4 linked regions of the Homo sapiens genome follow. The protein of the gene in region 2 purifies or fractionates together with the protein of the main gene of each other region. This does not show direct contact. Each region holds a gene or a part of one and is shown on either strand. Other genes may lie near its edges.

Evidence for each region.
Region 1: the proteins of USP47 (region 2) and RPRD1B purify together in Homo sapiens (affinity purification with mass spectrometry; 2 studies listed by BioGRID and IntAct, with this or other methods). This does not show direct contact.
Region 3: the proteins of USP47 (region 2) and ETF1 purify together in Homo sapiens (affinity purification with mass spectrometry; 2 studies listed by BioGRID and IntAct, with this or other methods). This does not show direct contact.
Region 4: the proteins of USP47 (region 2) and QRSL1 purify together in Homo sapiens (affinity purification with mass spectrometry; 2 studies listed by BioGRID and IntAct, with this or other methods). This does not show direct contact.

Annotation. Positions count from the first base shown.
Region 1 is NC_000020.11:38,036,745-38,043,773, reverse strand, and holds part of RPRD1B (regulation of nuclear pre-mRNA domain-containing protein 1B), read right to left. Parts: intron 6,316-7,029; exon of another isoform or gene 5,667-6,315; intron 3,340-5,666; coding exon 3,210-3,339; intron 1-3,209. UniProt on the Homo sapiens protein: Interacts with phosphorylated C-terminal heptapeptide repeat domain (CTD) of the largest RNA polymerase II subunit POLR2A, and participates in dephosphorylation of the CTD by RPAP2. Transcriptional regulator which enhances expression of CCND1.
Region 2 is NC_000011.10:11,935,956-11,942,984, reverse strand, and holds part of USP47 (ubiquitin carboxyl-terminal hydrolase 47), read right to left. Parts: intron 6,683-7,029; coding exon 6,475-6,682; intron 4,729-6,474; coding exon 4,613-4,728; intron 2,557-4,612; coding exon 2,437-2,556; intron 651-2,436; coding exon 1-650. UniProt on the Homo sapiens protein: Ubiquitin-specific protease that specifically deubiquitinates monoubiquitinated DNA polymerase beta (POLB), stabilizing POLB thereby playing a role in base-excision repair (BER). Acts as a regulator of cell growth and genome integrity.
Region 3 is NC_000005.10:138,505,591-138,512,261, forward strand, and holds the end of ETF1 (eukaryotic peptide chain release factor subunit 1), read right to left. Parts: intron 6,015-6,671; coding exon 5,885-6,014; intron 5,611-5,884; coding exon 5,455-5,610; intron 5,040-5,454; coding exon 4,975-5,039; intron 3,227-4,974; coding exon 3,079-3,226; intron 2,798-3,078; coding exon 2,715-2,797; 3' UTR 505-2,714; downstream 1-504. UniProt on the Homo sapiens protein: Component of the eRF1-eRF3-GTP ternary complex, a ternary complex that mediates translation termination in response to the termination codons. The eRF1-eRF3-GTP complex binds to a stop codon in the ribosomal A-site.
Region 4 is NC_000006.12:106,646,568-106,653,596, reverse strand, and holds part of QRSL1 (glutamyl-tRNA(Gln) amidotransferase subunit A, mitochondrial), read right to left. Parts: intron 4,573-7,029; coding exon 4,396-4,572; intron 1,389-4,395; coding exon 1,213-1,388; intron 1,131-1,212; coding exon 1,015-1,130; intron 1-1,014. UniProt on the Homo sapiens protein: Allows the formation of correctly charged Gln-tRNA(Gln) through the transamidation of misacylated Glu-tRNA(Gln) in the mitochondria. The reaction takes place in the presence of glutamine and ATP through an activated gamma-phospho-Glu-tRNA(Gln).

The sequences.
Region 1 (7,029 bases), on a different chromosome or scaffold from region 2:
ACCTAGAAATCGTCTTTGATTTCTCTTTTCACTTACTACCAGCTCCCACTCAACGCCTATAAATCCTATCAGTTTTACACTGGAGAGGTGGGGATCCTCCCACGAAGGAAGCACTCAATAAATGGAAGCTATTAGTATCTTCCCATTGCTTCTGAGTCCTAGGCAATGTCACCTCTAGCCTGCATCACAGCAATATCCTCCAAACTCATGTCCCCGCCCCTCCCTTGGCCTTTACAATCCATCCCTCTACACTAAGCCATTTTTAAAGAGGGATGTTTTAAAAATGTATGTTGGAATATATTGGAATATATCATTCCCCTGGTTAAAACTCTTCAATGACATCCCATGAGAAAAAAATCCTAACTTCCAAGACTTACAGGGTGTATGTGACTGCTGCATGTCCACCTCTCGGACCTCATCTGGATATCACTTTTCCCTTTGTGCACTATATTCTAACCACACCAGCCTTCATTCTGTTTCTCTTAGAAGGCCAAGATGATCTCTGCCTTAAGTTTTTCTTAATAGCTGCTCCCGCTTCGCATGATTACCGCAAATGTCATTTCCTTAGAGGCCTTCCTGAACCACACTACCTGTGAGATCCTACTCTAGAACATCACTCCATTTTACTATGTCCATATTGTCCTGCTCTGAAAGTATCTTGCTCATTTAATTGTCTTTGCCTGCCTTGTTCACTGCTGCTCCCCCCGTGTCTGGATCCATACTTGGCACATAGAAGGCACTCCAATACATGTTGAATGAAAAATGACATGGACAGCTGTCTCCTCACTGGGAAGAAAACAAGGCACTTGTATGAAAAGCAAGTTTGCAGTCTGGTTAATTAAACTGCTATTCAAATCAAATCTATCCTATGAACTTGGCAGCTTTCTCTGACTTGAGAGTTTTTTTTACTGTTTGTTTGTTTTGGGTGTGGAGGTGTCTTTTATCATAAAAATATCCCTCATCAATTTAGTCAACAGTAATGGGTCAACTATCTTTGTTCATCAACTGACCACAGAAAAAGCACACAGAAAGTATATGTTAATTAGGCTACTCCTACTGTGGACGAGCTGCATCACGGTTGAAGCAGAACTGTTGGACTTTCTGTCCCAATAATGGGGTATAAGAAAGGAGATTGGAAACATGGGTATCCTGAATGTAATACCCAAGCAGAATCTTAAAAGAACCAGAATGCAAACAGAAAGGAATTCGGGCTATTTTATTGAGAAGGACCAGGTTTATCTTCCTCACACTGCCACTGAATCTGCCAAGACACCTAAAACCTGGCTAGTTTTTAAGGTGTTCCCAAGAAAAAAGGAATTTTTAACCCTGGTGTTGCCCACCCCCTTTTCCACCCCTTTCTATTTACTTTTTGGTTTCAGGACAGCTAAAGATTACAGATCGTTTGTCTGTTTGTAATTTAGAGACAGGGTCATGCTCTGTTGCTAAACCTGGAGTGCAGTGGTATGATTATAGCTCACTACAGCTTTGAACTCCTGGGCTCAAGCAATCCCCCTGCCTCAGCCTCCCAAGTAGCTAGGACTACAGGTGCACACCACCATGCCTGGCTAATTTTTAAAAAATTTTTTGTAGACACAGGGTCTCACTATGCTGCCCAGGCTGGAATTTTTTAATAACACTGTTATGTTTACTATCCCTACAAGAAATCATTCCAGCCAACTCCCTAGACCAAATCTCTTCCATAATGAGTTAACATTAATTAACTCATTTAACAAATATTTACTGAACGCCTACTGTGTCAGGGCAGACCATAATGTTGCCCAGCTCCTGGGACACCACTTACATGGAGGCTATATAAATGGTATTCCTTCAAGCTACATAACTCAGCAGCTCTGTGCCAGACACTTTACTAGGTGCCTGGAATATAGGAAAAAACAAATGATCCAATGAATGAGCAAATGTGGAACAGGCATTGTACTACATACTTTTAAACATATTGTCTGTCTTTACCCTCACAACTCTTATGAGGGGGAGTGGTATCCTCCCCCTTTAGCCAGTTAGGAAATTTGGGCTCAAAAAGTTAAGTAACACATCCAAGGTCACTCACATAGTGTCTGAGGCAGAGCTACCATCAATTTCTAAGCAACTGTGAACTAAATCTCATCAAAGCAAGAAAATCTGTCTATTTCAGATAGCTCCTCTAGTAGTCTGTTCTAAGCTTACTCTGTTATGAAGATTCAGTATTTTTTTCAAGTTAATAACACATTTTGCTACTTGCGCCCATGTTGATCAAAAGGTGAGCCAGTTATGTAACTTATCCACAAAAACCATCTTTTTCATCTCTAGAAAGCTAGGTGTCATTTCTTTCTCTTGGATTTCTAATTTTATTCCTTCAAACTTTTCAAATCCTGCAATGAAAGCAGGACTTCATTTCTCATTTAAGGCCTTTCACTATATTTTAGACCTAGTAACAATTTATGTTTAACCTACTAGTCTCCCATTCATGTTTCCCAATTCCTTTTGCAAATATCTGTTTATATATTTACTTATAAACATAATATTCTAATGAACGATAGTTTTTCTTTGCTTTTCCTGGGCACCTAATTTAAGCCCACAGAAAGCTTTTGTTTTTACATGAAGTAAAGTAATTTATAAAACTTTTAATCCAATGTATGCTTTCTATGGTATTAGTTGTATGAGTGCCACTCCTCTCTGCCACAAAACACAACAGCACCAGGCTTAATACAATATAGCCAGAGCAAACACCTACTTTCTACACTAATAATTACTATTATTGCAGTTACAGTAATGCCTACTATTTTTAGTAAACTAGACATCTAGAAATCCAGAAGGAAATAAAAAGGAAGGCATTTGGCAATTAATTTCTTGCTATTAAGTTATGTTACTAAAAGGTTCCCTTACTAGTTAGCTTTGTTTTTTGATCATAAGCTGATGAGACAACTCAACCAAACCAAGGAAAATACCATAACCAAGAAATAAATTCAAAAAATGAAAATGAATATATCTAGAAGAAAGATAATGCTAGGCTGAATCTCTCAAATGTATCAGAATGTTTACATGTCTCGATAGTTCTTGAGGGCTCAACAAAACATAAAACCACAATTCGGCCTCCACAACTCTCTGTAAAGTAGGAAGTTGTCAATTTACAAAGGCTATCACAGAAAAGGAAAGAACAAAAAGGTGGGAAAGGCAATGAATTTAAAAACAAATCCAAAAAACAGACAACATACCTGGCAACATGAGAAAAAGCATCCACAAGGACAGATTCAAATTCTCTAGTGAATTCAGGTCCTTTCCTTTTACTGTTTTGGATGACATCATTCGCTAAATACAGAAAAGTAAGCTTTCTATTTGATTTGGCTGAAAAAAAGAAAAGAAAAGAATTTAACTTACACCAAAGAAATTCTCAATTCACAATTCTTTTGCCCTGGGCTGCTCCTAAAAAAACATTAAGACAAGTATTATCTACCTGGGGGGTCAAGTAGATATGTTTAAAAAGACCACCTAAGGAATAGGTTTGGGAATACCATTTCGGAAAAAAAAAAAAGAAAAAGAAAAAGAATGGGCCATCTTCATTGCTGTGTTGTTTAAACCAGGGTAATTAATTGATAGTAAAAATTAAGATAATCCAAAGAGAATTCCTAAAGGATAAGCAGTCAGTGTTAATGTTGAAACTAGGGCTTTTATTTATTCTACTGCAAAAATGAGCAACTTCTAACTCACTTTTAATTATCAAATATTTCAGAATGAAAGACTGAGTTGGCCGGACGCAGTGGCTCATGCCTGTAATCTCAGCACTCTGGGAGGACGAGGTGGGTGGATCATTTGAGGTCAGGAGTTTGAGACCAGCCTGGCCAACATGGTGAAACCCTACCTCTACTAAAGATACAAAAATTAGCCGGGTGTGATGGTGGGCACCTGTAGTCCCAGCTACTCAGGAGGCTGAGGCAGGAGAATCGCTTGAACCCAGGAGGTGGAGGTTGCAGTGAGCCGAGATTGCACTACTGTACTCCAGCTTGGGCAATAGAGCAAGACTCTGTCTCAAAAAAAAAAAAAAAAGACTGAGTTAGGTTTCAATTTTAAAATGGTTTCGCCGAGCGTGGTGGCTCATGCCTGTCATCCCAGCACTTTTGGAGGCCGAGATGGACGGATCACCTGAGGTCGGGAGTTTGAGACCAGCCTGACCAACGTGGAGAAACCCCGTCTCTACTAAAAATACAAAATTTGCCTGGCGTGGTGGCACATGCCTGTAATCCCAGTTACTCAGGAGGCTGAGGTGGGAGAATCGCTTGAATCCGGGAGGTAGAGGTTGTGGTGAGCCTAGATCATGCTGTTGCACTCCAGCCTGGGCAACAAGAGCAAAACTCCGTCTCAAAAAAAAAAAAAAGGTTTCTTGTAATTTTGCTCCTAAACTGAGAATTTCTCTGATACTCCAATAACCATAATCAATAATATAGAAGAATCTCTAGGTGCACCAATAGATATTAGCTCAAATACAAGTATACATTAACACTACACTCTTATTGAAAATTTACACACGTGTGAAATCTAGATATGCAAAATTAGGGCTTTCACAAAAACCATAATTCTCTCTTATTTATATGAAATGTGGTTATTCCCTATTACTCTATATGGTATCATATATTAAACCATAAAAACCTCGTGCAATATGTCTGAGTTACAGTTGCTTTGGGGAACATTACTGAATTCCCTGGCTTCTATGCACATAATTTCTCAACTATAAAGTTACATCCCTACAATTTTTGGTTCCAATTTTCTTTTAAAAGAAATAAATAAGAACATAATTAGATGTTTCAAAACACAAAGTTTTCTCCAATGCTAAAGTACCTGAAAAACACAAGCTCTTTATCAACCTTAACACACCTGAGTAACTCTATTTCTCTCTGAAACCAGTTGTTTCTTTTGAAATGTACAAAGCATTGATATGTCTGACATAGCAGGCATAAGATCTGACATTTTAAAATGTAGCTACAGGAGGCTGGGCACAGTGGCTCACGCCTGTAATCCCAGCACTCCGGGAGGCCAAGGCAGGTGGATCACCTGAGGTCACGAGATCAAGGCCATCCTGGCTAACATGGTGAAACCTTGTCTCTACTAAAAATACAAAAAATTAGCCAGGCGTGGTGGCGGGCGCCTGTAGTCCCAGCTACTCAGGAGGCTGAGGCAGGACAATGGGGTGAGCCCAGGAGGCGGAGCTTGCAGTGAGCCGAGATCACACCACTGCACTCCAGTCTGGGTGACAGAGCAAGACTCTGTCTCAAAAAAAAAAAAAAAAAAAAAAAACAAAACAAAAAAAATCAGCCGGGCGTGGTGCCAGGCGCCTGTAAACCCAGCTACTTGGGAGGCTGAGGCAGGCGAATCACTTGAACCTGGGAGGCGGAGGTTGCAGTGAGCCGAGATCGCGCCAACTGCACTCCCACCTGGGTGACAGAGTAAGAGACTCCGTCTCAAAAAAAAAAAAAAAAATGTAGCTACAGGAGAGTAACCCAAGTTAAAAACATGATTTTAATAGCACATTACAGTTTAAACTGATGAAACTGATGTCTTAAATGCTCATAAAATTAAATATGGATACCCTGAATTGTCTTAACCTTCTGGTAATAACCTAGTTTAGATGGCCAACTGATAAGAATACTAGGAACCTGGAGCTTTCTTCAACTTTCTAATTATTATTCAAAAGCAGAACAAAAGTGTCAGTAGTTACAATATCTACTGTTGCTACAAAGGTATGATTATGGCAAAACGTGCTTTTTTGTTAAAGCAAACCTTGCTCTGCAAAGTTGATGTAAGTGAAACTACTACACCTATAATCCCATGCAAGTTAGCAGATTCGAAAGCAAAACAGAACTTCAACAAAGCAAATTTCATTAAGTGAAGCTTTAAAATTCCATACACTTTATGTTGAAAAAAAAAAAACCTAGAATCCATATTGTAAAATGTCAGTGTGGACATTCAAGACCTGATATATACTTCTCAGTAGACAAACAAGGTATCTAAGGGGCTTGAGACCCAAGGTTTTCACTGTTTACAATGCCAATTAATTTTCATCACCCCAGAACTTAACAATGGGGATTTATTTAGGATAAACTGTATCCCTCCATATTCAACATCCTCAACAGTCAACATAAGCACCATGTGTGTCAAGGTGATATGACAAAACCCTAGAGCTCTTGAGCACACACAGTCACAATACACACAACATGCACACCCCTCCATCCCAATCCTGGGGGACAACTCACTTGTTCAGATGTCCTTCCTATACGACAGAAATAGGTCCTTTCACTCACTACCCATGTCCATTCCAAACTGGTCAAACTAGTTGTTGAGTAAAATTTAAACAACTGGTTAATCAAAACTTTTCACTTGTTTGGCTGGTTTTGACATCTACAGAAAGTCTTAAAGTAATTCTGCAATAAAAGCCCATTACCTACATTCAGGCCAAGATACAAAACACCATTAAAAACATTCATTTAGGAGCACTTTACACCAAAACTAGTCCATAAAGAAGGGGAGACGTTCTACTTAGAACAGAGCTCAAATGGGATAAATTAAAAATTATTCCTAGAAAATGGAAAGACAACACATCAGGAATAGAAGTATTTAAGCAAGAAAAAAAGTTAATTTTTATAAATCTCATATATTTTGAAGGCAACTCAGAGACAGTCTGTGAGCATCTCAGCTACGGAAAATGACTTCACCCTAGGTAGAACCTACAGGGCTAATCAATCTGAACATTAGGGCACAGAATCCTTTTCTTTCAGTGTGGGGGCATTTTCAGTTCATGAAATAAGCCTGGATATTCGGAAGCTAGGTATTGATGCTTGGAAGAGCATCTTTTTTTAACTCTGCACTGTCCAGTAAGTTAGCCACTAGCCACGTGTGGCTATTGGAACACCTGAATTGCAGCTGGTAAAAACTGGAAACTAAATTTTCAATTCTATCTACTTAAAACTTTAGTTCCTTAGTCACACATTTTAAGTGCTCCATAGCCACATATACCAAGCGGCTACCTGTTGGATGGCACAGATA
Region 2 (7,029 bases):
GTATCCCATGTTTCTTTTTTCCCTTCATTTGCTTTCGTTCTTCTACTACTTGTGATACTGTGAGAGTCAAGTCCATTAGCCAAAGGGATCTGAGCATTGTCTGCATTGCACAAAGTATCACTGCTATGACTGGAGCTAAGAATATCACTGTCCACTGAACTTGTACTCCTGTCATTATTCACATCTGAGTCTGATCGTTCTTCAGACTGAAAATTTTCTGGATCAGAAGTCTGAATATGCTGTTCAAGTTCTCTATTATCCACTGATGCTGAAGAGTCCCTCTCATTGAGAGGTGATTCGATGTTTTCAAAGTCACTTGTCTCAGTACTTTTGCTGCTGTCCCCATTATCTCCATCCTGCTGTTGCTGCAGTGACAAGCTTTTGAGTTTTTCAGTGCTTTCTTCTAGAATAGCTTCCACAGACTTTAGGCTTCCTACAGGTCCTTTGACTCTTTCACAGTCATCATCCACATTACCAGAATCGCCTCCAGCTTTCTGGTATGCTGTCCTTTTGGAATAAGATACTGGGGATTGTTCAGGTAGCAAAACAAATAATCTGATTGTATTTGCATGCCGATCCAGGAGTTTCCATAAATGAGAGTCTGCAAAGGCCATCTGGTAATCCAAAGTCTCGGAGCTTTCAACAAACACCTACATAGTAAGTCAGAGTTTTATTATATATTAATTTTAGTGACATGCTCATTCATCATCATCATTATATTGCATCAATACAACACAATACACAGTTATGTTATAACATGTGTGATGATATAGTTTCTGAAGGACTCTATTGTTTTGGAGACTGAATAAAATGAACATTAGGCTCAAATGTCTTTGTAACTAGCCATAAAACTACACTAAGATAGACGGTATGGACATACACATACACACAAACATCTTGTTTATTGGGTTGTCCAATTTCAGAAAGTTGTGTATTATATATCCTTCTCTTTAGGAAATTAATACTCTGGTTTTTCTTTAGATTGTAGAAATCTTTCACCTTTAGGAAATCCAAGTTTAGCCTGAACTACAGACACAGGAACATGTGTAAAGACACCTTGTGAATATAACACCAAAATCCAGATCATGGAAAAATTTAATGGGCAAATGACTTGGCTTTGTAACAAACTGCAAGGAAGCAAACAAAAAAGACACAGGAAAATTTACAGAAAAAAATTTTCTAAGACAATCAGAGAAATTTGAACACTGACTAGATATTGACTGATATTAAGGTATTTCTTAGGTATATAATGTAATTGTCATTTTTTTAAAAGAGTTCTCTTCATTTAGATATATATGTTCATATTATCTATAGATGAAATGATATGATCCTGAGGAAGTTTATCAAATAATCTGGGCGAAGTAGGTGGTTAAATTATAGATGAAACGAGATGATCACTGTGGAAGCTGAGAGATGGGGATGTGTGGGGGTTCACTCTATTTTCCCTATTTTCTCTACTTTTGTTTACGTTTGAAATTTTCCATAATAAATCTTTTTTTAAAATGAAATTCGTACTTGGCATAAATTTGGCAATTATAAATAGCATGTTGGGTTTTGCATAAAAGGATAACACTATCATTATCCTATTCAGTAAATGTTACAAATTGAAACCAGTACGCTAACCGTTTAAGGAAAAAGAAAAGTTTCCCTACTGCACTTCTTACCCTAAAGTAATGTACTGGAGGGGATTAGAAATTTTAATGTTTTACATATACACACACATATACACGTACATCCCCTCCCCCACCACACAAAAGTTTTAGAAGTGTAGGTGAATAAAAATTACATATTAGTAATAAAATACTAAAAAAGTTAAATGAGATAAAAGACTAGACTGTACTAAGATGAATGAGACTAGAGTGATAAAAACACATATGAAAAATGATAAATGATCAAACACATAATAATAGCAAGACAAAAGAAGAGGATTAACATGAACTTTCTCATTTCCAACAGAGAAAAATAAGTAGGCAAAAGGAATAATGTTGGGTGAACTCAAGATTATAATTTTCTCTATACCAGGTATGCCTCTGACCCTCACCATGAAGCACTGCTTTATGGGACAAGCTCAAGAATAAACACAATCCAGGGGACATAATCACTGTGGGAAGAAATGGTTATGAAGTCTTCACCAAAGAGGTAGGACTAATCTGGAGACTGAAAAAAAAAAAATGCAGGGAGAGGAGGAAGAACACTCCAGGTGGGAGTGCACATGAACAAAGGCAAAGAAGAGGAGAACCAGTAGGACTGATTCACAGGACAGAAGGGAGCCTGACCTGACCTGACTACAAAGGAAGGTAATTACTGGGTTGAGAATTTTAAATTAAGTTCCAGACAGATGTTGAACAGCTGTGGAGGCCAGGCTTATAATATTGAACCTAATTTCATTTACTACTACCAGCATAGAAAATAGTAATGAAAAAGTAAATGACATACCTTGTTACTTCTAAAAAATCCTTCAGCTTTCAGGGTTTTACTGGAGACACTGAGAAGACGCAAATCATTGTAGCAGCGTTCCAGCACTATTCTCATTGTTTCAGCAGGTAAATGGATGGCCTATAATGAAAGCAATTTAATAAAAAGTACTCTTTCAAAAATAATTCTGCTTGACTTAAAAATATGGGAAAGCAAGACACTGCTGAGTTCTTCTTAAAAGCAGCAGAGAGAAACATAATTTTAGTAGAGGTTTTAAAATTTTTGAATAATTGAAGGGAAAAATTACTTATAGCCATAAATTATACTGCAAATCAGGAGAACAAAGTACCATTTATAAATGTATGCTCTGAAACTATTTTAAAGGTAAGGATTTTTTCCTAGAATCTCTATTGCTCTCAAACTTGCCAAGTAAATGAGTGATCTGATTCCAAAGAAACTGCGTAACTGACTTTTTGACTGCTGATATCAAAATGTTGAACTTCTTGGCTTTTGACAGGCCTTTCTATAGTCTGTGAATAGTTTTTAATACTTTTATTAAAGCAATAAGCAATTTTCCTTTGTGTAAAATGAGAAGATTAGTAGGGAAAATTTTAAGTTTTTCTGAAAGTCCACATCTTTAATTTTTGGAGTCATTTTATAAATTGACATGAAAGCAGCAGATAAAAATACTTTACATTTAAAAAACACAATTTCTTTTCAATGCAACTAAGGTCATCAGTTATAAATACCTAATTCTTAAGCAGGCTGGTTAAAAATACTGTATTTGTTTACATGATGTTTTGTGACTGCCTTTATTCTCTATAGACATATTTTTCTCAGTAAGATTATTAACTTCTTGGGGAAGAAACTACTGTGTCTCTTTCTTTTGTATTATGTGTGAGTGCTTATTAAACTAATTTTTTTTACATTTGTCATTCATATTTTAAAAATGTAATATACAGTATATTATACCAACATAGTATGCATTTACAAGCAATTTAATCATAAAATATAATTTCACAAAATGATTTGTTTCTTGGTTATTACTTTAGCAAAATTGTTAGAAGTCATATACAGAAGTCAAAATATAGACTTTTTTTTAGAACATAATAACCACCAACTCTTACATAATGCCTTACAATTTTTTTCCTCAGAGCATTTATTTATTTTTCATTAATGTTCACTACAACTCTGCTAAACAGGTATTTACAACCCCAGATAATGAGATGAAAGACAAGACTACCATAAGATGAATGACTGAAAACTGGACTCAACTTGTAATTATGGAACAATTTCCACTACACCAGGGAATATTAACCTACGGTTCAAGAACCCTGCAAAATCTGCCGTTTGTATGCTCAGGGTTCTGCAGAGTACAGGACCCTTGTAAGGATGATAATCATTTGTCTGGTGTGGACTAATCCTTTTGCCCCCCAAAATTTGAATGTTTTCATTGTTATATTTTTCCAGCTCAAAAAATCGGAATGAGCCTATGTTCTTTATCACTAGCTCACATAATGGCACCAGTATTTAATTCATCACCTTCCCTGTCAAGTCTACAGCCTCACCTTCCTCCTCTATTTCTATTAATGTATCCCTACTTTTCTGGTTACCCAAGTTTGAAACCCCTGGCTCAGGTCATCGGTGCATCTGCTTTACCCCAACATTTAACAATTACAAGTCCTACAGATTCTATCTCTCTTGGAATCCATGCCTTCTCTCATTTCCAGTCATACAACTGCACTTGAATTATTTCAACAGCTTCCTCCTCTCCATTCCTGACTCCCCTCAAGGCATGTGGAACGCTAGTCTAGTGTCACCAGACACTAAATGCAGCATTGCCGCACTTAAAAATGACGAAAACAAAAACTCGACTTATTGCCTACGCCAAAAAGGAGCCCAAACTTTCGTGTTTACTGTTTAAAGCTCTTCATGAAATAAACTGTACTTACATTTCCAATCCTGTATTTTATGATAATCCAGCCAACACATATAAGTTGTTATATGTACTTGCCTTACACTTTCTTACCTCCACACTTTACTCAATCTGTTTCTTTTAACTACAGTTGTCTCCTAACTACAAATATTAATTAGCTCCTGGAGGTAAAGCATGTATCTTATTCATAACTGTCACATAGTGTGTCTTGTACATAGCAGGCTCTCAAAAATTTATTTACAGACCCCTTTTAAAACTTACCTTTGAAATCAGTTGTTTGAATTCTGTAACTGTCTGATTTAAGTAAGCACGAACAGTTATAGGAGCAGCTACAGATTCTGCCTTTAGATCAACAACATGAACTTTCACCATCACTTCTGTCACATTTGAAGACATAAACACAGAATTGGAGGTTATTTTTTAATGTATTTCACATGAGTAATGCATTCTTAATGTGTTTCTAACAGGTGACAAATCCAAACTTCCAAGTACAGATGAAAACAACACTGAATAAATATAAATCACCAGTTACTGCAAAACAAATATTAAAGGTGACACAGCACTCCTGCTTGCTTTTGAACAAACCCCTTATTAAGCCACCTTGTTCATCATCAAAGACTTATCCTCAAAATAATATTTCCTATATCCCAAGGAAAATTCCACACAAAAACTGTTCTGATTATGCCTTTGTTTTCTCACTTAAATCTTTTATATTGAAATTTAATCCCATTCTCTTCTGTTTTCAGAAGGTTATGTTTACAATTAAACTCTTAATCACTTGAAAAATAAATGATCTTCAAACATTGTACTTAATACACAGTTATTCTGTATCTGTTTTAACCTCATGTTTTATGTCAATCCTCAGTTTTTTCCCTACGTTGTTAATCTAAATTTGACAAAATATTCTGCTAAGATCTTGATTATTAATGAATAAAGACTACTTTATAAGTCTTACAATCCACACTTGCATTTAGAGTTCTCTTTCAAATAAGTGGTATTACTGCTGACTCATGTTATATCCTAATCATTCTTTTTCTTGTCTAGCAAAAAAAAAAAAAAAGCAAGGAAATGTCCTTAAGGGACTCTTTATAGATAGGGTAGAGTCTTAGAAGTCGAAGTAGACATCATAAGGTTTCCAGAAATAAAATTTTCCCACTTAAGAGCCGTAGACTCCTTGAAAGAATACTACATCTAACCTACTCTGTAAACAGAGGCCTTCATTTAAAAAGGAGATATACAGGATCCACAGAAGAACATTATTGTAAAAGGGCAGAATAAAGTTTTGTAAGTTCAACTTTTAGGGAAAAAACACAGAGAACCTAATTCTCACTAACCACTGATGCAAAGGAGTTAGGGCCAAGACAAAACAGTATGGATTTTGTAAAATTATATAAACATTCTGCTTTTCTTCTATTTGTTACAATTTACATATGGTAATTATAGAAAACTCTGGACAAAAACAGACCATGTAACTGTCTATAGGGAAACTGTCTCTGGGAAAACTAGGGGCATGATATTTTGGTTTTCCTAAGCAGTCTCAAAGAAAAAAAAATAACAAACTCAATGTGCTGAGTGAATGTGATAGATTTAATGAAGAAAGAAAAGATGAAGTCCCTGGGACCTGTAGAAATAGAGAGGATGACGAAAAATTGTAAATGCTGACAGTGATGGGATAATGAATCCACCCTTCCAAAGAAGACCTGAAAAACAGCCTCTACTTCTGAGACTTTATGGGAATATACTTTTTTGGACCAAGGTCTTCTCCATAAAGAGAAAGAAAGAGAAAGAGAGATCTTCCTAAGAGAGCAATTGATAACTTTAGGGATTGACAGCATCCAGAATGATTCAGTACCGCCCACTGGAGAAGAAAAAACCCACTGAAGACCGTAAGCTAGAAGCTTTGTTGTTTTTTGTTGTTTTTAAAATTATGTACACAACTCTTTGCAAGTAATCTAGAACTTAATTCCAAGCTGTTGCTGAGTACTTCTCAACCTGTCAAAATTATTCTACATTTTAAGACCATATACAAAATTTAAATTATGTTCATTTCTACAATAAAAAAAAAAACTTTCTCATGAAAATTCTAAGTACAGAACAACTAAAAATAGTGTAAAATTGCTCACCTCCAGGTTTATAAGATTGGAAAACCTGATCAGGCTTTCTCGTCTCCAACAGCAGATCAAACATATATGTTGACTTGACGCCACCTAGTAGAAGCCCCATTGGTGTATCTTCTTCTCCTTCATATGACCGTTCTAGATAATCATGAAACTCATCATATTTAACAAGGCGACAGCAATCCAGGGGTATTACCTCTTCTAAATCCATCATCTAAAAGAAAGTAATCCCCCAGAAAGAAAAAATATATATACATATATATTTATATATATACATATATAAATACACAGTGTTTTAGTCTGTTGGGGAATAACATTACAATAGGCCCTAACAAAATCCACACATTTATGATTTGCATCAAAGACATCAAAGTTACAGGCACAACTTAAATGTTATTTTTAAATAATTATGTTTCATTATCCCTCCAATCATATAAAGCATGTACTAAATACATTTTTTATTTTTTAAAAAGTTAACATCATAAACTTTAGGTGTAGAAACAAAATCAATGTATTGTAACTATTGTTCATAATCAACTAATCTGGAAACACAGAGGAAAA
Region 3 (6,671 bases), on a different chromosome or scaffold from region 2:
GCCTAGTTTCTGCTATTCCATCTGGACCATTCTATTATAGGACTCAAAGACAGATACAGAGAGAACTTTGGAATAAGGCCTGGGATAAAATTTTGGTGTTATCACTAAAGAGCTGCTACTTAACCTTCTTTTGTTCTGTTTCATCACCTGTAAAATTGGGTACACCATCTACCTCCATGGGATGCTGGGTTATGGGATAATATACTTAACATACCTTAAAAAAAAAAAAAAGCAAGATTCCCTTTGGCATGCATATAGAATGGGGGAGAATACAAATTAGTTTGGCCCCAGCAACCTGAACCTTCTTCTTCTAGCATAACTCTGGGATCATGACCTCAGAAAAACTTTGCATATACCTTTCCATAGACAAATGTAGTAAACACAACTCAAACCCAAGGCTGAAATGCTATTGGCCGTGACTAATCTGAGGTATGCCTTGGAGAACTGTCTCCACAGTTCAGGCCTTTCTAGACCAGTCCTAAAAAATCTCAAGCACACAAAGTATATTCTTAAATATGGTTTAATACTCTTCTCCATTTCTGTACATCACAACACCAAGATTTTGCTGCTTAGTATCTCTCTGCAGAGGCTATAGAGAATGCAAAGGCTACGGTTTTCACCCCCTCTTATATGTGTTTGTATGTGTAAGTGTAATACATATCAATATATATTGATACACACATCAATATATAATGCAATATATATCACCGAAGAGAACACATTGATTAAAGAAATACAAAAATTTGGCATCATTTCCAAACTTAAATAGTAAAAATAAAAACTACAAAAGGAGCTGCATACCCTAAATGTATCATGTGAAACAACAAGCATATTCAAAAATGTAAATTTACATCCAATTTCTCTGGTCTTGTCATATCACATCAGACCCATTTACAATGGCAAAACCCTAAGGTACTGCTGTGAAGAGAGCATGTTTGCTCGCTCTTGGGTGTTCTGCAAACAAATAGCAGAGCCCAAAGCAAAAAAGCCTGTTCCGGTGAAGTCTCCCACGTTGGTGAACACCAAATAATGGACTCTTCTCACAGGGGGTTGAGACATCAGGTTACACATTGACAGACAGTATTTGGACCTCAGAGTACAGTGTGAGAACCAGAAACTTTACATTTAAGACATACTCCCTTCATTCAAGTGAAACAGGATTATTGGAACGATAGGCAGGTCTGTAACCTGGGAACAAGGAGCTGGTTCAGACCAATAAAGCTACGAGTGACTGAATCAAGTCAGTAAAGAACAGCAGTCAGGCACTAAAGTGTTAAAAGTACCCAATTTGAAAACCAAATGCACCCCACTACCCTAGTCAGTGTGGAGGTGATACCAATTGACTTTTAAAACCTTTGGTCCTTCAAAGTCCATTTGGTATACTTTTTTCCATCGCTACCACTGGGCACGTACTATACACTTTGTTCAACTGTCACCACCCTGGGCACGCCATGACCTTGCATATCAGCTGGGTTCAAGTCTGACTTACAGCCCAGCTGTGAAGCATAAGCTTCAGGGTTTCAGGCCAACTTTTGGATCCAACATGGTCTTAAATCCATGGTGCCAGAAGCTGTGTCCCATCCCTTCCCACCCGCCCCTAATTTCTCATGTGAGAAGTGCTTGTAAGTCCCACATTTGAAACAGATGCTCCAACCCCACCAGGAGGTCAGGAGTTTATAATTACATGCAGTCATACATGTCTGTCGTTCCTGTGAAAAACCTTGCAGTTCATTTTAATAAATCAAAACATTCACATAATCTCATGCCATCCAACACAAGGAAAACACATCCACCTCCCTTTTAACAAGGATTGACCCAAGCAAAATAAAATCCTCTTTAAATTTCTTCGCTTCCACTTAAATTGCATGTTTTATTTCTCCCAATCCCAGCAATAGCACAGAAGCCCCATCATATCCATCCCAAACCGGTTTCGAGTAGGTTAAGGTTATAGGGACCCTTGTCAGAACATTGATACAAAGGGCTCCCAAACGCCGGGCACAAATGTGTCTGCAAACAGATGGAAGTAAACAGTGCACTGGCCCAAATGCTTCATGAGTCAGTTTGATTTTGCAATGCAATTTGCATCCTTGAAACTGCCAGTCTGGAGGGGGACGGGGTAGCGTGAGGGAGTGAAGTTGAAAGTGCCTCCTATTAGCTCACCCTTTCAACATTAAACAGAGACCAAGAGAGAAATGGTTCCAACATTTCACCACATATATTTCTTCTTACGCAGTCTAAGCTGAGAATGCCATGTAAATGGGTCACTGCGAAATGCAGCAATTTAATTTTTCTCCAATCAAAATAAGAAACAAACCAGTATGATCTCACTTCTATTAACTTTTGAAGGTTTACAGCAGTTAAAGTATTTTTGCTTCTATGTATGAAGGTTAAAAAAATCATTTTTTTTCATAAAATACAAGAGCAACCAATTTCACCATCCAGTAAAAGTAAAAACTGGGATTCTTTTTTAAATTAGTCCAAAGTGGCGTTTAGGAACTTAGTTGTAGGCTGCTGCGCTGACACCATGACAAACCAAAGTGTAGGGCTGGGTCTGGTTTTGTTTCGGTTTTCTTTTCAATATCCAATGCTCATGGATTAAGTTCTGGAAATGTTCCAATTGTAAGGCAGGGATCTGTTTGGATTCCACCATGGGTATGCTCCTTGGGTTGGATGCTGGAGGGTGAGGCACGTTTTGCCGGACCCATGTCGACTACCTAGTAGTCATCAAGGTCAAAAAATTCATCGTCTCCTCCTTGGTATTCCATTCCCTGGAAATCTACTCGGTACCGCAAGATACCTGGGGAAACAAACCAAAAGGTAAATTACCTGTGTTCATGGGATGGGCATGTGTGTAGGTGGCTGGTAAGGGAATAAGGGAAGCCCTATTCTCTTGCAGAATTGCAGAAAGCAAAGAGGTAATAATAAACATGGGTCCAAATTAGGAACCTGCACCTGCTGCGTCAATCACCTATCCCAGCAGATAATAAGCACCTCACCGGAAGCAGGGCTAGGGCTAGCCAGGAGGGACCTTGACCTGAGACCCTGGTTTTAAGTTTGGTTTGCTGATTTGCTACTCACCTCCAATTCCACCAAATCCTTTCACAAACTGAGACCCTTCTTGTGATTTATCTGTGACAATTTCCAACGTAGCTCCAAATTTTTTATAGTTGTTAGCAAACCATTCCAACAGGGGCATGCTCTCGATAAGCTCATGTTCCTGTCCGGTCTACAGGGATGACCATGAGATACAAAAATGGGGGATTAGGATATATGAAGGCTAATTAGTCCCTCTCACAGCCCCTTGCCCACCTATCACTCTCATCCTCCCATTTATAGGCATGTCTGTGTGTAAAGCTCTGTAAGTCATCTCTGGTTTTGATAACCTAATGGATATCAGCAGAGAAATTCGGATTATTTCAAACAACACTTCTCCTCAGGCTCTACCCTCAGCTATGAAATACCAACACAAAAACTCAGTGGGTATTCAGCTTATGATTCCTACTGTTGACTCTAGAAGTCAGGCTGTTGTAGTGTCTCTAAGCAGCACCCATTCAATGGCTCAGAAGAGACATTCCAGGACTGCTTTTGGGAGTGGCCTCGTAGAGAACAAAGCTCTCCAAACCAGAATTTGAGGAAGCTATCATTTAAACCTATCTCATACGGGAGGGTCATACTTTCAACTGTTGTGATGCACTTAGAGCAAACCAGAGAAGCCACTGCAGTGGAAGAGCTGATCAAGTGAAGAAAGCAGCACAGGTTTCACAGTGCAGGAGAGGCATTATGTAAATTACATTTTCCTCCCTATTAAATTTCAAGGATAATGAAATGTTTTCCTGATTGCTTAACTACTTAAAAACAAAGACAAAAACAAACAAACAAACAAAAACCAGGCCAGGCATGGTGGGTCACGTCTGTAATCTCACCACTCTGGAAAACCAATGTAGGAGGATCACTTGGGCCCAGGAGTTCAAGACCAGCCTGGTGAACACAGCAAGACCCCATTTCTATAAAAAAAATTAGGCTGCCTGGCATGGTGGCTCACGCCTGTAATCCCAGCATTTTGGGAGGCTAAGGCAGGTGGATCACCTGAGGTCAGGAGTTCGAGACCAGCCTGGCCAACATGATGAAACCCAGTCTCTACTAAAAATACAAAAATTAGTCAGGCGTGGTGGCGGGCGCCTGTAGTCCCATCTACTCGGGAGGCTGAGGCAGGAGAATTGCTTGAACTCGGGAGGTGGAGGTTGCAGTGAGCCGAGATCACACCACTGCACTCCAGCCTGGGTGACAAGAGCAAACTCCACCTCAAAAAAAAAAAAAAAAAAAAAAGGGAATGAGGGCTTGTGCCTGTACTCCTGGCTACTCAGTAGACTGAGGCAGAAGGATTGCCTGAGCCCAGGGGTTCGAGGTTATAGTGAGCTATGATTGTGCCACTGAATCCAGCCTGGGTGACAGACCAGGACCCTATCTCAAAGAAAAAAAAAAAAAGACCGGTCATGGTGGCTCACACCTGTAATCCCACCACTTGGGAGGCCGAGGTAAGTGGATTGCTTGAGCTCAGGAGTTTGAGACCAGCCCAGGGCAACATGGTGAAAACGCCTCTCTACAAAAAATTCAAAAATTAGTTGGGCGTGGTGGTGTATGCCTGTAGTCCCAGCTACCAGAGAGGCTGAGGCAAGAGGATCACTTGAGCCCAGGAGGTGGAGGTTGCAGCGAGCCGAGATCATGCCACTGCACTCCAGCTTGGGCAACAGAGCAAGACCTTGTCTCAAAAAAAAAAAAAAAAAAAAAAAAAAAAAAAGCTGCAGCTCCTTCCCTGAAATCAGATTCGTATGTGGCAGATAGATGACCACCTCCCACAGCACCCCCAATTAGTATAAGGTTTGGTTTCCCAAAGCTCACCCTCTACACAGCCAGTACTCTAACACACGGATTTACGCTTGCACGTATCATCAAACCAAGAAAATAATCACATACCTCTTTGTCTGTGAAATGAGATTTATCCTTTTCTTGCTCTGGAGTTAGATAGAGAATTTTCTCCTCTGTAGTATTAGGAGGAAAAAATGTGTTAACCTGGCTCTCATATACTAATCTGTGTAAGCTCCATAAGATGAGGTTAGATGAGAAAAGGGCTCAGGGACTCAATCTCTCAACATTTTTTCCATAAACATGTTAGCATACACTGAGTGTCTACTAGGTACAATGCTTCAACCATAAGGAACATCAGAGATGTTCAAGATATAGTCCTGGTCCTCAGCAGATGTAACAATCTTAAGCAGACGTTAAACAGTTCAAGCAGAAAAATCTATGCAGGAATGTGCTACAGACTGAAGGACTGGGGAACAATGGGTAGATCTACCTTCTGATTGCTCCTGAAATCAGCCATCCCTCCCAAATCTCCACCCCAGGCTTCCTGGCTCAGTAACAAATAGCAACCTTATTTTCTAATTCTCATACCTTCTGTGCCTTGGCAATGAAGAACATATCTCATTATATCCAGATTTTCATAGACTATTAGAATTTCTACAGCTCCCATTTCCAAAGCCTTTAGTGTATCTTCAACGCCAAAACAGTACTTGCCCGTGTCCTGGCTGATTTCATCAAAGTATCGTCCTACGATTAGGGATCAGTCAACAGGATATATATTAAAGTTTCCCTAGTAGATACAAACACACCTATTCGACCTAATGACTAAAGAAGATAAAAAATAATGCTTTTACTGAGGCAAAAGAGTTAATAAAAATACTAAATATTCCTTTTTACATTTTTGGTACCTTGTCTCATACATACAATCACGTACATACACACACACACATACACACACACACACACACACACACACACACGAAAACATTTCACAGAATAAGTAGTTGCATTTCACCGATACCTATTAATTTCTTCTCTTGAATGAATTTCACGTTGGAGAGGACTTCAGTAGATAACTCAATAGCTTGGTTGAATCCATTTTCACCACCATAGGATATATCAACTAATTTTAAAACTTTTGATTGTAACCTCTAACACACAAAAAAAATATTATTAGTACTTACTGGTACTTATTTAAAATATTATTAAAACACCTTTACTCAAACCCACTAACTCTTAATGGTATGCAAAGCTCAGCATTATGATCACTGAAGTCTAAATATGGGGAAGGAGCCCAATTTAATCAAAAGCTGCTCTTAAAGTGAACAGCACTGCCAATTATATCACACATTTTATTAGACCTACTATAGGACAACTCATTAAGTGCAAACAAAAATAAGTTATTGTGGAGGAAAGGGGGGACCACTGGCTCCTGCCAAATAAGGTAGTAGAGGTTAAGACGGGCTGGGGAGGGTGGCTCACACCTATAATCCCAGCACTTTGGGAAGCTAGGAGAGGCAGACAGCTTGAGTCCAGGAATTCTGAGACCAGCCTAGGCAACATGGTGAAACCCTGTCTCTACCAAAAAGTACAAAAATTAGTTGGGCATGGTGACACATCCCTGTAGTCCCAGCTACTTGGGAGGCTGAGCTGGGAGGATCACTTAAGCCTGGGAGATCGAGGCTGCAGTGAGCCATGATTGCCACTGCACTCCAGCCTAGGCAAGATAGCCAGACCCAGTCTCAAAAAAAAAAAAAAAAAAAAAAAAAAAAATATATATATATATATATATATATATATATATATTT
Region 4 (7,029 bases), on a different chromosome or scaffold from region 2:
CCTGCCTTGGCTTCCCAAGGTGCTGGGATTACAGGTGTACGCACCTGGCCTTACATATATTACCTTAATGGAAGATTTTAAATAAGGTAGTATTTCTCTATAGCAGTGGTCTTACCTGGGGGTTACTTTTGTCTCCTTTTCCCTAACCAGGAGACACTTGACAATGTCTGCAGACATTTTTGGTTGTGGGATTGTGGTTTTGGTGGTGGGGTACTACTTGCATGTAGGGGTAGAGGCCAGGGATGCTACTAAACATCTTACAATGCACAGGACAGTCTCCCACAACAAACAATTACCAGCCCCAAACACCAACAGTGCTGAGGTTGTGAAACTTCATTATTCTGCAGGGTAACTTATCTTCCTAAAAGATTTAAAGTATTAATATATTGCAATGCTTAATATTTTTAAAAGGTTAGTAATTTAACATTATAACATTCATGTATTCATTACTCAATTGCTACTGTAATAGATGCAGTAGTAATAATAATAACAGTAAAGATGTTAACATTTTTTGAGGCATTACTATGCAAGTTGTGGCTTTGGGCTAAAGTCCTTTCTTTACATTAGGGATGGGCAAACTATGGCCCATAGGCCAGATGTGACAAGCCAGCTGGTTTTTGAAAATAAAGTTTTATTGGAACAGAGACACACTTTTTCATTTACATATTGTCTGTGGCTGCTTTCTCACTATAATGGCAGTTAAGCAGTTATGATAAAGACTGCATGGTCCACAAAATCTAAAATATTTGCTATCTTGCCCATTACAGAAACAATTTACAGACTTAACATGACTGTCTAATTGATCCTCACAAACCTCTCTGAAGTCAGTATTTTTATTATTCCTATTTTACAGATGGGGAAATTGAGCTAAAAGAGATTAAGTCACATACTCAACTCACATGATTAATAAAAGTGGCAGAGCAGAGATTCAAACCCACCCAATCCGCCTCCCAAGTCTGTGCTCTCTATTGGACTTGACAGTATTTCTGTAAAGTAATGAAAGGAAAAAGTTACCTTTGGAATTCCTATACATAGTTTGCTCACATCTGCCAAACTGGGAAGCATGAATGGTTTATTAATAGGTTCATGTACTGTGGTAGAGTCCCTGGGGTCAGGTCCGGCCAGTGCACCTGTAAGGAGCAATACTTATGAATGACAGATATATTGTTTTATAGAGAAGCTGTTGCAAATGATATAGAATTATATAAATACCCAACACAATTGCTGCATCATCCACACATCTGGTTAAGATTCCTGGCACATCCATCGAATTCACCAGGGGAATGAGACCATGACGGGAAACTAAGCCATAGCTTGGTTTGAAACCAACAAGCCCACAGTGGGCAGCAGGATTTCTGGTCGATCCTCCTGTATCTGATCCTAAAGCCCTGGAATTTAAATGGAATTATCTTTAGAAGAATGATATATCTCTAATTATATTTGGAATCTACCCTTTCAATTGTATATTTTTAAACTGTATTTTCCTCTGATTACACAAAAGTAACACATGTTCATCTCAGAGAATTCATAAAGTACAGAAAACTTTAGGTACTCAATATTCCAATACCCAGAGGAAAACACTGTTAACATTTTGGCATATTAAGTTCAAGTCTTTTTAAAAATGCATTTTTTTCACCGTTGAGATAATTCTGTAATCATGAGTTTCCATCCCTTTTTTAACATTAGCTTTTTACTATGTCATTAAAATTCCTGAAAATGTAAAGTATATGTAATATTCCATCATATAAATTCGTGATTCCTGGTATTTTAAAGTCCATTCTCCTTTCAATATACATATAAATCTTGCACTTTCTTCTGATGTTGATATTGAAAACAAATCAAATTAATGGCAATTTTGCAGTATGCTTTTACAGACTAAATACGCCCCTCCTAGAAATTCAGATACAGCCCTTTGCTACCCACCCCATTTAGAATCATGGATTGAGATGTTTAATAATTTAAACTCTTACGTTGTTTCTAACTAGAATAACTATTTAATAAATAACTTTGTTATGAAAATCTCTGAACATAAATTTTTGCTTATGTGTGAGTACTTTTTAGGCTAGCTTCCAAGAAGTAGACTTAGTGCACATAAGTTTCTGATATATGCTGTCAAATTACTTGTCAGAAAGATTATGCCAATTTATATCCCTAGTTGCAGTGAGTCAGATTGTGTTTTAAAGTTTCAGTACCGTCACTGAGTACTAGTAATTTTTAAAATTGTTAGTGTGATAACCAAAAAGTTTTTATTAATGTGCATTTTAAATAATTTTGCACACTTATTTATACATGCATTACTCAACTACAAAGTGACTGTTCATTTCTTTACCCAGTTACCTACAGAGTTTGTGTTGTTCTTATTTTAAAAAAACAAAAAACGGACCTGGAGGACATTATGCTAAATGAAATAAGCCAGTCACAGAAAGACAAATACTACATGACACCACGTACATGAGATAACTAGAGTAATCAAATTCATAAGACACAAAGTAGAAGGTGGTTACCAGGGCTGGGAGAGGGTTGAAGGGTACACAGTTTTAGCGTTGCAAGATGAAAAGTGTTCTGAAGACTGATTGCATGTTTTTAATACTTTTGAACTGTACTTTTAAAAATGGTTAGGCTGGTACATTTTATGTTATGTGCATTTTACCACAATTAAAAAACCATTTCAGGAAAACAGAAGTTGTGCTGTAGAACAGTACATATCTACTATAAAAATTAAAATATTATATAACTATATGATGTATAAAGTAAGATTACTCTTAGAATCACAGCCCCCACAATAACCGTTACCAGTTCTGACATGCATTCATCCAGACATGCAGTACTTCCATGCAATGACTGACATATATACCTATGCAATTGTTACTTTTAACAGAAATGGGTTCTGCAACTTATTTTTCACTTAACAATTTATCTTGGTTATTTTTCCATGTCATTGCATAGTGCTCTAACTTATTCTTTTTAGTGGCTGCACAGTACTCCAGGAATCTTCCTATTTTAAAAGCTATTGTAAAAGAAACAAATCAAAAAGGGGTAAACAAATCAAAAAGGGGTAAACAAATCAAAAATAAGGAAACAAAAGCAGAACACTTTACAGTTTGAGATACATTCAATCTGAAGTTATTTTTGGTCTGTACTTCTGTTGCTTATATTTAAAGTGAAGCTTTGGACTGAACAATGCTCCTAACAATAACATGGCACTTGTGCCCTACAGAAAATGCAAATTAGATTTCCTTTCTTACAGTGTCAAGTTAAGCTACAAAATCAGACTGTTGCTTTCACAATTTTAAAAGATACATTTTCTTATTAGCATTCACTGACGGCTATGTAAAAGTAAAACTTACATTTCCATAGGAATTATGTGTCAAAATGCCATCTACTAAAAAGCACATTCAGAAAGATGAACACTAAGTGGGATGATGAGGACAGAAAAAAAGCACCTAATCCTGCAGTCCTAACTTGTCAGAACTCACATTAATATTAATGCAATGCTATAAAATTTCACAGAGATAAAATGAAATGGTTTTACTTGTTAATAAGATTTTAGGAAAACTGAAAAAAAATCTGTAGAACTCACATCTCCATAGCTCTAAAAAAATATAAATGATTTATGGATTGCAATGTGTGTGAAAGAACTTAGTTTTAATGGATAATTAAGGGGAGATAAAATACAAAACTATTACTAAAGAAACACATTCATTTTGATTAAATTGAGACTGATAAACACAGCAACAGCCATATTTACTTTCTTTTCTTTGGGTAGTTAAGAAATGCTTTACAAATGGAACTGAAAATATGATCAATGGATTCTTACCAAATACAAAGTATGATAGATAAACAGAATCAGCACCTAACAAGCTTGAAAAAACTTTACTTACTGATGTACATTTTTAATTGCAGATTCCTGAAAACACTATTTAAAATATCTTATTAATACATATTAGCATTTTTTCTTTTTTTTCAAAAGATTGATCTTGCTGAAGGATAAACATTACCAACAGTTTAGTTCAGCAGCACTCAACTAAAGCCATTGTATGTTAGTCCCTAAATATTTGTATAATCAGTGAGCACACACTCAAATTATTTAAAAATGAAATGCAATGAAGTTCATTTATGTTCGATGCTTTATTCTGCAAGATCCACAAAATCATATTTTAAGAGAACCAGATACTATGGAGAAAAATTTGTTATTTTAAAGTTAAAAGTATTAAATATACATAGTGTACTGTACAGTTGAGTGCAACTCAAGATATAATTTTGATATACCTTTGAGCACATATAGCTCACTAGAAAGAAAAATACCAGGATATGAACTACTCTATTGCTGGATACAGTTTATGACTGTTTGTATTTGGGTGGGTTTTAAAATACAGATAGAGAAAAGCATCTTACGCGTAGCATGTGAACGCCGATACAGCAGCTGCACTCCCACCTGAGCTTCCTCCAGTTATCAGCCAGTCTGAATCTTCATTCTCGCTGTGGGGATTCTGCTTCCTCTTTTCTCTATATTGTTTTGAATAACTCCAGGGGTTTTTAACTGGTCCAAATACACCATCTGTGCTCCCAGATCTGATGACGAAGTGAAGCAAGATACCTTAGTAAAACTTTCATTTTATGTGAAAATTTCATCTTCTGAGTATATTATTTGCTTCTGACACTCATTGAGCATTTAAGAACCCACTGTAGCTTGAATTGAAAAAGGTGGGAAGCCTGTTCAGATGTAGCTTTCATTAATTGACAGTTGCGGAGGATGGGAAGGAAGAGCATTTGTGGTAGAAAATAGACAAAGCTAATCTGCTAAGAAAAGATTTTGCCTCTTTTGATCATCCAATTCAACTGAAGATGATTTCCCTTGTGAATCAAGGTCTTCCAGCTGAAAAGGGTTACATTCAAACAGTTAAGAACTTCTGAACCAGAAGTTCTATGAAAAACATTACAAGTGGAATGCTAATAACTTAAATTTTTGAAATGATTTTATTCTCAGATAAATTGCAAAAATAAAAATAACATATAAAGCACTTTATACCCTTTACCCAGACATACCTACGGTCAACATTTTATCCCTTTGCTTTACTACTTGTGTGCTCTGTGTACGTTTGTACATATGTACATATATACACAAAGTATGATAGAAACTTAAGGGTATCTTAAGGGTAACTTACATGTATATCATAGCCCTTTATCCCTAAATACTTTAGTGTGTATTTCCTAACAATAAGGATATCACATTATACAGTCACAGTATAGTTATCAATCTCAGTAACATTAATATCAATACAATAATTTTTTTTTTCTTTTTTGAGACGAGTCTCGCTCTACTGGCAGTCTGGAGTGCAGTGGCGCGATCTCGGCTCACTGCAACCTCCGCCTCCCAGATTCAAGCAATTCTCCTGCCTCAGCCTCCCGAGTAGCTGGGACTACAGGTGCGTGCCATCACGCCGGGCTAATTTTTGTATTTTCAGTAGAGACGGGGTTTCACCACGTTGGCCAGGATGGTCTCAATCTCTTGACCTCGTAATCCACCCGCCTTGGCCTCCCAAAGTGCTGGGATTACAGGGGTGAGCCACCACGCCCGGCCTACAATACTTTTATCGAATCTACTGTATGTAATTCAATTCTGTCAACTGATTCAATAATGTACTTTGGCTGGGTGCAGTGGCTCACGCCTGTAATCCCAGCACTTTGGGAGGCCGAGGAGGGCGGAACACGAGGTCAGGAGATCGAGACCATCCTGGATAACACGGTGAAACCCCATCTCTACTAAAAATACAAAAAATTAGCCGGGCGTGGTGGCGGGCGCCTGTAGTCCCAGCTACTCGGGAGGCTGAGGCAGAAGAATGGTGTGAACCCGGGAGGCGGAGCTTGCAGTGAGCCGAGATCGCGCCACTGCACTCTAGCCTGGGTGACAGAGCGAGACTCCATCTCAAAAAAAAAAAAAAAAAAAGTACTTTATGGCATTTTATCTCCTTCCTGGATCAAATCTAGAGTCAGGTCTTCCATTTAATTATCATTGTCTCTCTCTTTTTTTTTTTTTTTTGAGACAGTCTCGCTCTATTGCCCAGGCTGGAGTGCAGTGGCATGATCTTGGCTCACTGCAAGCTCCGCCTCCCGGTTTCAAGTGATCCAGGTTCAAGCGATTCTCATGCCTCTCGAGTAGCTGGGACTACAGGCATCCACTACCATGCCTTGGCCTCCCAAAGTGCTGAGATTACAGGTGTGGGCCACTGTGCCCAAGCTCACTGTGATTTTAATTTTGAATTCCACTAATGATCAACGATATTAAGCATTGTTTCATGTGTTTGTCAACTATGTTTTAATCTCTGATGAAACGTCTTCTTAAATCTTTTGTTCATTTTTTAAAAATAGGGTTGCTTGTTTTCTTATTGAGGTGTGAAATGTTCTATGTATTTTGGATATCGGTTCTTTCTGAGATACATGTTTTGCAAATATTTTTCTCTCAGTCTGTGGCTTGCGTTTTCACTTTTTTAGTAGCATATTTCAAAGTACAGAAGTTCTTAATTTTAATGAAGTCTATTAATTTTTTTTTTTTTTTTTTTTTTTTTTTTGAGAAGGAGTCTTGCTCTGTCACCCAGGCTGGAGTGCAGTGGCGTGATTTCGGCTCACTGCAACCTCTGCCTCCCGGGTTCATGCCATTCTCCTGCCTCAGCCTCCTGAGTAGCGGGGACTACAGGCGCTCGCCACCACGCCCGGCTAATTTTTTGTATTTTTAGTAGAGACAGGGTTTCACTGTGTTAGCCAGGATGGTCTCAATCTCCTGACCTTGTGATCCACCTGCCTCGGCCTCCCAAAGTGCTGGGATTACAGGTGTGAGCCACCGTGCCCGGCCAAGTCTATCAATTTTTTAAGTGGATTTGTGCTTCATGTGTCCTATCTAAAAGAACTCTGACTAATTCAAGGTCACTAATACTTTTCCCTGTTTTTTTTAATTTTTTTTTTCTGTAGAGACAGGGCCTCACTATGTTGCCCAGGCTGATCTAGGACTCCTGGGCTCAAGCAATCCTACTG